Linked DNA regions of Homo sapiens: region 1 is linked to region 2. The links come from fine-mapping of genetic effects on plasma protein levels. A gene starts in region 2. The other region holds a variant in brackets. All regions are shown on one strand. Distances are from middle to middle.

Evidence for each region. PIP is the posterior inclusion probability: the model's chance that the variant is causal. Protein levels are from antibody-based Olink assays in UK Biobank. Linkage for the fine-mapping came from a reference panel and not from the study's own genotypes, which makes the PIPs less certain.
Region 1: its variant is fine-mapped to the plasma level of the CD27 protein (UK Biobank, PIP 0.95).

The regions. Positions count from the first base shown.
Region 1 is chr12:6,426,623-6,431,994 of GRCh38, forward strand. No RefSeq gene overlaps it. Among named protein-coding and RNA genes, the nearest start is that of CD27, 16 kb to the right of the region's middle. RefSeq lists enhancers at 206-315, 356-595. The variant G/A (reference allele first, on the strand shown) is at 2,509.
Region 2 is chr12:6,441,533-6,446,878 of GRCh38, forward strand. It overlaps CD27 (CD27 molecule), which reads left to right and starts at 3,423. Exons shown (of 6, transcript NM_001242.5): 1 at 3,423-3,699; 2 at 3,892-4,023. The coding sequence starts at 3,564. It overlaps CD27-AS1 (CD27 antisense RNA 1), which reads right to left. Exons shown (of 6, transcript NR_015382.2): 5 at 2,014-2,185. RefSeq lists silencers at 1,205-1,344, 1,445-1,524 and enhancers at 2,515-2,584, 2,605-2,654, 3,559-4,060, 3,605-3,664, 3,695-3,874 and 1 more.

The DNA.
Region 1 (5,372 bases), 15 kb before region 2:
TGTGTGCCTGGGGTCCCAGCTACTTGGGAGGCTGAGGCATGAGAATTGTTTGAACCCGAACCCAAGGCTGAGGCAGAAGTTGCAGTGAGCCAAGATCGCGCCACTGCACTCCAGCCTGGGTGAGAGAACTCCAGCCTGGGTGACAGAGGGAGGCTCCATCTCCCAAAAAACAAAACAAAACAAACAAACAAAAAAAACAAGTAGACAGCATCAATTCTGGCCAACTTATGGGTAAAAGAGAAGGCTGCCACAGCCCTTGCCCTTTGGGAGTGCCTGTCCCTTCAGTAGCTGCCCCAAAAATCCTGCAGAAGAGAAGGGTCAGAGGAAGCACCTGTAATAAAGGGTGAGGCCCCACCAACCCACTCTCTTCCTCTCCTCTCCTAGCCGAGGGAGCCATCAGAGGCAAAGGGAGTGTGGGAAAGATTAGTCAGACATGTTTCCCTTTGTGTCACAGAGTCAAACTCTCCATCCGTGACTTCAGAAAAGTCACAAGAGAGCCCCAGCAACGGCCCACAGGGTGTCATAGCAACACGCCTACACCTCAAGGTGCCACCTTCCAACTCTGGAGAAAACAACTGCCTTCTTCAAATGTCAACTGCTACATGGGCAAAGAGCAACTTGAAAATGAAATTCGGGGCTGGGCGCAGTGGCTCACACCTGTAATCATTTTGAGAGTCCAAGGCGGGTGGATCACTTGAGCCCAGGAGTTCCAGACCAGCCTGGGCAACATGGCAAAACCACATGTCTTCAAAAAAATACAAAAAGTAGACAGGCATGATGGCATGCACCTGTAGTCCCAGCTACTCGGGAGGCTGAAGTGGGAGGATCACTTGAACCCGGGAAGTGCAGGCTGCAGTGAGCCGAGGTTGCACCACTGCACTCCCCACTCAGTCTGGGTGACAGAGCGAGACACTGTCTAAAAAAAAAAAAAGAAGAAGAAAAAAAGAAAGAAAGAAAATGAAATTGAAATTAGGGGCCGGGCACAGTGGCTCATGCTTGTAATCCTAGCACTTTGGGAGGCCGAGGCAGGCGGGATCACCTGAGGTCAGGAGTTTGAGACCAGCCTAACCATGATGGTAAAACCCAGTCTCTACTAAAAACACAAAATTAGCTGGGCATGTGTGGCGCATGCCTGTAATCCCAGCTATTCAGGAGGCTGAGGCAGGAGAATCACTTGAACCCAGGAGGTGGAGATTGCAATGAGCCGAGACTGCGCCATTGCACTCCAGCCTGGGCAACAAGAGCGAAACTCCATCTCAAAAAAAAAAAAAAATGAAATTAGGAAAAACAACTCAATTTACAATAGCATCAAAAAGAATAAATACTTAGGCATACATTGGCCAGGTGCGGTGGCTCACATCTGTAATTCCCACATTTTGGGAGGCCAAGGCAGGCGGATCACCTGAGGTCAAGAGTTCGAGACCAGACTGGCCGACATGATAAAACCCTGTCTCTACTAAAAATACAAAAAATTAGCCAGGCGTGGTGGCAGGCACCTATAATCCCAGCTACTCGGGAGGCTGAGGCTGCAGAATCGCTTGAACCTGGGAAGCAGAGGCTGCAGTGAGCTGAGATTGGGCCGCTGCACTCCAGCCTGGACAACAGAGTGAGACTCTGTCTCGAGAAAAAAAAAAAAAAACTTGGTATACATTTAACAAAGAAAGTGCAAGACTCATACACTGAAAACTAGAAAACATTGTTGAAAGACATTAAAGAAATCCTAAATAAATGGAAAGACATCTGTGTTCATGGACTGAAGGTAACAATATTTCCCAATTTCATCTACAGACTCTATGCAATCCCCATCGAAATTCTAACTGCCTTCTTTTTTGCATAAATGGACAAGCTGATCTTAAAATTCACATGCAAATGCAAGGGACACAGAGTAGCCAAAATAATTTTGAAAAAGAAGAACGAAGTTGAAGTCCCAATTTCGAAACTTACTATAAAGCTACAGTAATCAAAACCATGGTATTGACCTAAAGACAGACATACAGATCAATGGAATACAATTTAGAGTCCAGAAATCAACCCATACATCTATTGTCAATTAATTTCAGCAAGGGTGCCAAGACCATTCTGTGTGAAAAGAATAGTCTTTTCAAGAAGCAGTGCTAGGACAACTGCATATCCACAAGTAAAAGAATGAAGTTGGACCCCTACCTAAAACCAGATAAAAAATTTAACTCAAAATAAATCAAAGAACTAAATTTAAGAGTTAAAACTATAAAACTCTTAGAGGGAAATATAAGTGAAAATCTGTATGAGTTTGGATTCGGCAACAGTTTCTCAAATATGATGCCAAAAGCACAGGCAACAAAAGAAACAGTAGATAAACTGGACTTCATCAAAATGTGAAACTTTTTTTTTTTTTTTTGAGACGGAGTCTCGCTCTGTCTCCCAGGCTGGAGTGCAGTGGCGTGATCTCTGCTCACTGCAAGCTCCGCCTCCTGGGTTCACGCCATTCTCCTGCCTCAGCCTCCCGAGTAGCTGGGACTACAGGCGCCC[G/A]CCACCACGCCCGGCTAATTTTTTGTATTTTTAAGAGACGGGGTTTCAGCATATTGGCCAGGCTGGTCTCCATCTCCTGACTTCGTGATCCGCCCGCCTTGGCCTCCCAAAGTGCTGGGATTACAGGCATGAGCCACCATGCCCGGCCCAAAATGTGAAATTTTTATGCATCAAAGGGCACTATTAAGAAGGTAAAAAGACAACCCACAGTATGGGATAAATTTTTTTTTTTTTTTTTCTGAGACGGAGTCTCGCTCTATCGCCCAGGCTGGAGTTCAGTTGTGCGATCTCGGCTCACTGCAAACTCTGCCTCCCGGGTTCCACACCATGCTCCTGCCTCAGCCTCCCGAGTAGCTGGGACTACAGGCGCCCGCCACAACGCCTGGCTAAATTTTTTTTTTTTTTTTTTTTAATTTTTAGTAGAGACGGGGTTTCACTGTGTTAGCCAGGATGGTCTCGATCTCCTGACCTCGTGATCTGCCCGCCTCGGCCTCCCAAAGTGCTGGAATTACAGGTGTGAGCCCCCGCCCCGGGCCAGAGAAAATATTTTCAAATCACTTATCTAGTAAGGTCTAGAATTCATAATATCAAAAAGAAAAAAAAAAAAACTCTTGCAACTCAGCAACAAAAGACACAAATAATTTAATTTAAACACGGGCAAAGGACTTGAACAGACATTTCTCCAAAGAAAATATACAAATGGCGATGAGCACATAAGAAGATTCTCAACATCATTAGTCTTAGTGAAATACAAATCAAAACCACAATAAGATACCACTTCACACCAACTAGGGTAGTTATAACTTTTTCAAAAATAGAAATGTATCTGTGATATTTGCACATCTTTGTGAATATAGTAAAAGCACTGAATTGCACATTTTTAAATGATGAAAATGATTCATTTTATCTCAGTAAAAGTCTAGCCACTGAATTGTACATTTTTAAATTATTAAAATGATTCATTTCATCTCAGTAAAAGTCAACAGGCACCAGGGATCCCTTCAGTTTGGGCTGGAGGTCAGTGCAGTTTGGGGGGTCATCAAATGCTGAAGCAGAAGGAGTTTAGGGGTCACGCAAGTCCCAGCTGCCGTGTGACAAGTGAGGTAAAGGACACACCCTCTGTGGAGGTCTGAAGTCCCCTGACATTAGTAAGGGAGGGACAGCAGAGATCTCCCCTGTCACCACGAGGCTTTTTTCAGCCCCCAGGGCAGATGGCAAGTGTATACCATGTTTGGCACCCCTGTGATTGGCAGAGGCAATGCAGGTTGGGTCTGGAGGACAAGATTGCTGTGGGGGAGAGCCAAGGGTGGACTTCAGAACACTGGTGGTGACATAAGGGTAAAAAGGCCTTGGTCACAAAAGAGGAAACACAAACAGCGCGATCATGGAAAGACGCTCAGCCTCCCCGGGAATGGGAAGAGTGCACACTGAAACAATGAGACAGCACTTTCCTCCAATGAGATGCTCAAAAACAGTTTGCTAATACGAAAGCCTGGCAGGACGTGAGGAAATATGTGCTATCATTCCACTGCTGGTGGGAGTGTGAATTGGTAGGGCCACTCTGGAGGGCAACTCGCCAGCATCTGTTAAAGTGAAAAATGTGCACACCCTGTGACTCAGCGATTCCGATGCCCCGCACTTATTCTAGAGAGACACTCCCACATGCACAGCGAAGTATGAGATGTTTATGCAACACCACTTACGATAGTGCATTGTTGGGAACAACCTAAGTATTCGGGAACCAGGAGAATGGCTAAAAAGCCTCTGCACATCCATTCTCTATTTAACGAAACGAGTAGTTCTAGAAGTATAAAATGAAATGATCTCCAAGACATATAACTGGATTAAAAGCACGAAAAGCAAATCGTAGGATACATACTGTATATCATTTATGGAAAGAACAAAACAAACACAAAAATACAACTGTGCTGGGGCCGATGGACAATTGTGCCTGGCAGGCTGAGTCATGAGGCCAGTTAACAAGCCTTTCTCTATCTGCAAAAAGAAGTACTTTAGAAAAGCAATATAAGAAGAACATGGACCAGGGGCAGTGGTTCATGCCTGTAATCTCAGCACTTTGAGAGGCTGGGGTGGAAGGATTTCTTGAGGCCAGGAATTTGAGACCAGCCTGAGAAACATAAAGAGACCCAGTCTCTACATAAAATTAAAAATCAGTCAGGCGTGGTAGTGTGCACCTCTGGTCCTAGATACTCTGGAGGCTGAGGTAGAAAGATCTCTTGAGCCCAGGAATTCGAGGCTACAGTGAGCCATGATTGTGCCACTGCACTCCAGCCTGGGTGAGTAAGCAAGGCTGTCTCTAAAACACAAAAAGAAGAAGAACATGGAACTGCCAGACTTGGGCTATTTCATTTCCCAGAGATAATTTTTTACCGAGTGGAGAGAAAATGGGTGGTTTGTTCCTTAGGCTCTATTTCTTGCTCTGTGCTAGAATTATCGCAGCTTTGTGTAAGATTTCCTTCAGCAAATATAGGTAGCCTGCGATGCCCCAAATAAGAAAGGAAAAGACAAAGTCAGATGTTACTGCTGTCGGTCATCTCAGGTATGAAAAAGAGAGGCAGGCCCCTTGCCAGGGAGAAGGAACAACCAGATGCTGTCCATGAGGCACTCTCCTACCTCTCCTAAGACAGGGGTCGCCCTTGCTCTGAAAAATTCAAGCAGAGAATCCTCAGGAGGAGTGGGGCCAAGAAATCAGAGTAAGAAATATTTGATTATTGCTTAATAACATTTTAAGTAGAAAATAAAATAATTTTTTAAAACAGGCTGGCCGGGCGTGGTGGCTCACGCCTGTAATCCCAGCACTTTGGGAGGCTGAGGCAGGTGGATCACGAGGTCAGGAGATCGAG
Region 2 (5,346 bases):
CTTGCTGGGAAGGAGGCTTTAAGGTGGTGGGGGCAGCAGTGCTGGTGGTGGTCATCGAAGAAAGTGGGAGTCGGGGAGGAAGCAATGGGGAGCAGGGGACAAAGAGGGCCAGACAAACTCAGAGCTTCAGGTGATGAGACTCAGGAAGCCTAAGTCAGGAACAGTGATTGCGGACATCTTTGTCCCATAACAGAACTTCCTCCTAAGGAAAGGTCTTGCAGAGACTGGTCCTGCTGAGCGCTTTAACAGGTTATTGATTCATAAAAATTGGAGAAAAAAGACAAAGTCTGCCACACCTAACAGCCTTCTGTTTAGAGCTGGTTTAGAGGAAACTTTAAGCAAGTCTTGTGTCCAACAATTTGGGCCTGAGGCAGGGTACAGGTAAGGGAACAGACAGGAGACACGGAGGCAAGAACAAGACTTTAGCTGAAAGAGAAATCAGAGCCAGAGGCAGCCACAAGAACACCCAACCTACTGGAACTCATGCAGGTGGACAGCCTGCCCAGGACTTGCCCTGAGTGGGAAGCAAAGAGCATCTTATCTAGATTTTAAGGAGCAGGGTGCCCCTGGCTGACATCTAGGCTACAGTCACTGGGCCAGGTGGAGGGTTGGTCAGGCCCTCTCAAAAGTCATGAGAGGCCAGGCACAGTGGCTCACGCTTGTAATCCCAACACTTTGGGAGGCCGAGGAGGGCAGATCACTTGAGGCCAGGAGTTTGAGACCAGCCTGGCCAACATAGTGAAACCCCGTCTCTACTAAAAATACAAAAAATTAGCCGGGTATGGTGGCCGGTGCCTATAATCCCAGCTACTTGGGAGGCTGATGTATAAGAATCGCTTGAACCTGGGAGGCAAAGGTTGCAGTGAGCTGAGATCATGCCACTGCACTCCAGCCTGGGCAACAGTGAGAGACCCTTTCTCAAAAAAAAAAAAAAAAAAAAGAACCAAAAAAAGTCATGAGAGTCCTCAGAGTTCTCAAGAAGGGCTGCTGTGGGCCTGTTTCTGGAAAGGAAAGAAAAGCAGGGAGCTGTTGAGAAAATACCATATGTTTTTATGCCCCAGCCAGGCATGGGGGAGAGGCTGACCCCAAAAGAGAAAGTGGTTGTGTGAGATTTCAAGGAAGATGTCAGCGGGCTGCATCCCAGGGCCTCTAGACAAAAGGAAGGGCCCAGCCAGGCATGGTGGCTCGTGCCTGTAATCCCAGCACTTTGGGAGGCCGAGGCAGGCAGATCACCTGAGGCTAGGTGTTCTGGTCCAGCCTGGCCAACATGACAAAACCCCATCTCTACTAAAAATACAAAAAATAAGCTGGGCGCGGTGGCTCTCCCCTGTAATCCCAGCCAAGGTGGGCGGATCAACTTGAGGCCAGCCTGACCAACGTGGCAAAACTCCATCTCTACTAAAAATACAAAAATTAGCTGAGCGTGGTGGCACGCACCTGTCATCCCAGTTACTCAGGAGGCTGAGGCGTGAGAATGGCTTGAGCCTGGGAGACAGAGGTTGCAGTGAGCTGAGATTGCATCATTGCACTCTAGCCTGGGTGACAGAGTGAAATGGAGGGAGGAAAAAAAAAAAAAAGGAAGGTCCCGTCCAGGGAGCCAGCCTAGGATGGGGAAGGCTCACCAGAAGTGGATGCAAAGAGTGCTGGAGATGAGCTCATTCTATTTGCCTAGGAAAGAAAAACGTCCAGAAACCTGGCCTTCCTCCTCTTGGCCGAGGCCCTCCAGGAAAGCCAGGCAGACCCTGCTCCTGCTCTGACCCCCTGGAGAAGTGATATGTAGAAAAGAGGAGATGGGCTTTGGCCCAGAGGACAGCAGCGTTAGGCTAGTGAGCAGTTCCCAGTCGGTTCAAGGTTGCTAGGCTCAGCGAACTGCAAGTCCCTGTTCGACAAGTTTCTTCCTAAAGGTCCCCAGTTCCTCATGATTCTTCTGAGGGTCTCATCCACCCTCCCAGGGCCTGCAGTCAGCTAGCCACCCCACTGCCCCATGCCTGCAGTGAACACATTTACCACAACCTGGAAATGGCTGGTGACAGAAAAGTCCTCACGGCCACAACACTCTCTGCGGTGGGAATTCAGGTGCCTTGCCTGATGGTGACAAAGCTGGTTTTGCATAAACAGCTCTCTGAATCACACCCAAATGTGGCTTCTGACTTGAGTGGACCCCCATGAAGAGCTGCAGAGGGGGCTGGGAAAAGACAAGAGAATGGAGAAAATGAGGAGAAAGGAAACTACAGAGTGAGATAGAGAACAGATCTGACAGGTGTGACCACAGCAGTGTGACATTTATGAACAGTGTGGAAACAACGGCAAAGCCCCTAAATTAAAAACTTCCTGGGGAAATAAGCCACTCCACATATCGGTTGCTGAGGAAAGAGTGGAGGAGGCTGTTGACCCGTGTGTGTCCCCATGACTCAAAGAGGGAAAAGTCTAGCTGTTTCCAATATCCCGAAATCAGTCTTGCTGGGAGAACTGGGAAAATAAAAAAGAGATGACCCCCGTAGGAAGCTACCTTTAATCCCAAGTGCCCAAGGCTAGGAGAGAAGATGCTCCAGGCGATCCAGGACACCAGTGACTGACACAGCCAGAGGTGGGAAAGGGGAGGATAAAGATGGCACAAAAGTGAGGAGTGAGCAAGGGTCTGAGAGGGAAGGCCATGTGGGCAGTAGGTGGCACCCACATCAGAGACTGACATGAGGATTAAAGGAGAGCATAGGTGATCGGTCAGAGTGTGACAGAAGAGAGGCAGCTCTACACCCCTTGCTTGCAATTCTGAGCATTCTGTAGCAAACTCGTTTGGCCATCAAACCAGACCTCAATTGAGACAAGGCTATTTAAGCTTCCTCCCAGTTGGTGTAAATATTCAATAGTTTTGCTGCAGAAATGTTGCGTTTGATTATGAGACTACCCCAACTCCCCAAGGGTGTTTTGTGGTGCTGGTTTCTGTATAAACCTGAAAAATTCTGAATTCCAAAACTTATCTGACCCCCAAAGTTTCAGATAAGAGCTTGTGGACCTGTGCTCAATTCTGGTTCTCCTTCCTTCTTTCAACTGTTGTCTGTGAAAGGAGGGATGCAGGTATGGGAGACAGGAGTCCTGCGAATTCGTCTGTAAACTGTGGACGGGGGGGTGGGTGGGGGGGGGTAACGTGGGCACCTTTGTGCACAAGTGCATGAATAGGAGGGGTGAGCAACTGTGTGTCCATCACCTTTTTGTCAAAGAAGCAGGAGTCAGTGGGCTACGTGCTTCATGAGCAGGAGAGGCGGAAACTAAGGAAGGCTCATGTGTTGGAGGAAGCATGTTTGAAGAGCAGCAGGTCTCACAGAGTTTGCTCTTTAATACTCTCCCCAGCACACGGAAGGGGAAGGGGGTGGAGGTTGCTGCTATGAGAGAGAAAAAAAAAACAGCCACAATAGAGATTCTGCCTTCAAAGGTTGGCTTGCCACCTGAAGCAGCCACTGCCCAGGGGGTGCAAAGAAGAGACAGCAGCGCCCAGCTTGGAGGTGCTAACTCCAGAGGCCAGCATCAGCAACTGGGCACAGAAAGGAGCCGCCTGGGCAGGGACCATGGCACGGCCACATCCCTGGTGGCTGTGCGTTCTGGGGACCCTGGTGGGGCTCTCAGCTACTCCAGCCCCCAAGAGCTGCCCAGAGAGGCACTACTGGGCTCAGGGAAAGCTGTGCTGCCAGATGTGTGAGCCAGGTAAGAGGGGGCCTTGGTAAGGGCCAGGTGAGTGGCGAAAGAGAGAGGACTGGGGTTAATACAGTAAATAGGCGCAGGGTGAGACTGAGCTCAAGCAAGGAGGGAAATCCTGCAGCTGTGGGGAGGCACCACCTTGAAGAGGGCAGAGAACCAGCCCTTCTCAGGCCTTGATCCCTTACCCTCTCCTCCCAGGAACATTCCTCGTGAAGGACTGTGACCAGCATAGAAAGGCTGCTCAGTGTGATCCTTGCATACCGGGGGTCTCCTTCTCTCCTGACCACCACACCCGGCCCCACTGTGAGAGCTGTCGGCACTGTAACTCTGGTGAGGTGGGCAAGGGTGTGTAGGTGGGGACGATGGACAAGCATCTGGGGGAGCAAGGCTGGTGACGGGTTTGGGGGTGCAAGGAGGATGACGGGGCCAAAGCTTTGGCCTTCTTCAAGGCTCACAGCAAGTGGAGCCAATGCTGGGAAATGCGGCACCCTAGGTGGGGCATGAATTAACGTGGGCAGACATCTAGTATTCCAGGAAAGGGATAAATAGAATTTGAGGGATTGGTGAGAACGGGTCTATGGATAGGATCAAGACAATAAAATGAGAGAAGTGGCTCTATGACCCCAGATTTCGGGCAAGCAACCCCCAACCAATAAACTGACTGTGTTCCCAGAGTGCACATGTGCAGGTTGGCCATTGGGAATTTGGAATACATCTTTCTAAGGAAATAACAAAGCAACCCAATAGGTAACAACCTTTTTTTGCACAAAAGCCAATTTGAGAAAATGAGTATGTATGTAGCCTGTGTTTTTATTTTATAGTTCCAAAAAAAAAGGTTTTTTTTAAACTAAGAAGTATAATATCTGCAGTTGTGCTTATGAATGCTGTTATTATTTCTCCATCTTCGCTACAATTTCAGAAACTACGGCCAGTATACACTAGAATAGCAGGCTTTAAAGTGGCCCCTTTGAACAAATGTTCTCTAGCAAGACACTTTTTAGAACCAGGTAACTGTAACTATTAAACTACCTACTTGCAAAACGTGTTTGGTGTCACTGGGTCTCTTGGTACTGGGTTTTGTTTTGTTTAGTTTAGAGACAAGGTCTAGCTCTGTCACCCAGGCTGGAGTGCAGTGGTGCAATCATAGCTCCCCACAGCCTTGAACTCCTGGGCTCAAGCAATCTTCTAGTCTCAGCCTCTGAAAGTGCCAGGATTACAGGTGTGAGCTGTAGTGCCTGGTCCCGTAAAAACAAAAACAAAAACCAACACCAGATGTGGTGGCTCATGCCTATAATCCCAGCACTTGGGAGGCCAAGGCAGAAGGGTATTTGCATATTTTGTAGAGACTTGAGCCCAGGAGCTTGAGACCAGCTGGGCAACATAGTGAGACCTTGTCTCTAAAAAAATTGGCTGGTCATGGTAGTGCACCTGCAGTCCCAGCTACTTGGGAGGCTGAGATGGGAAGATCACTTGAGCCCAAGAGGTCCCCAAGAGGTCCAGGCTGCTCACATCACTGCACTCCAGCCTGGGTAACAGAGCAAAACCCTTTTTCACACACACACACACACACACACAAAAAGCCAGAGCAGTGGCTCACACTTGTAATCCCAGCACTTTAGGAGGCCAAGGCAGGCGGATCCCTTGAGCCCAGGA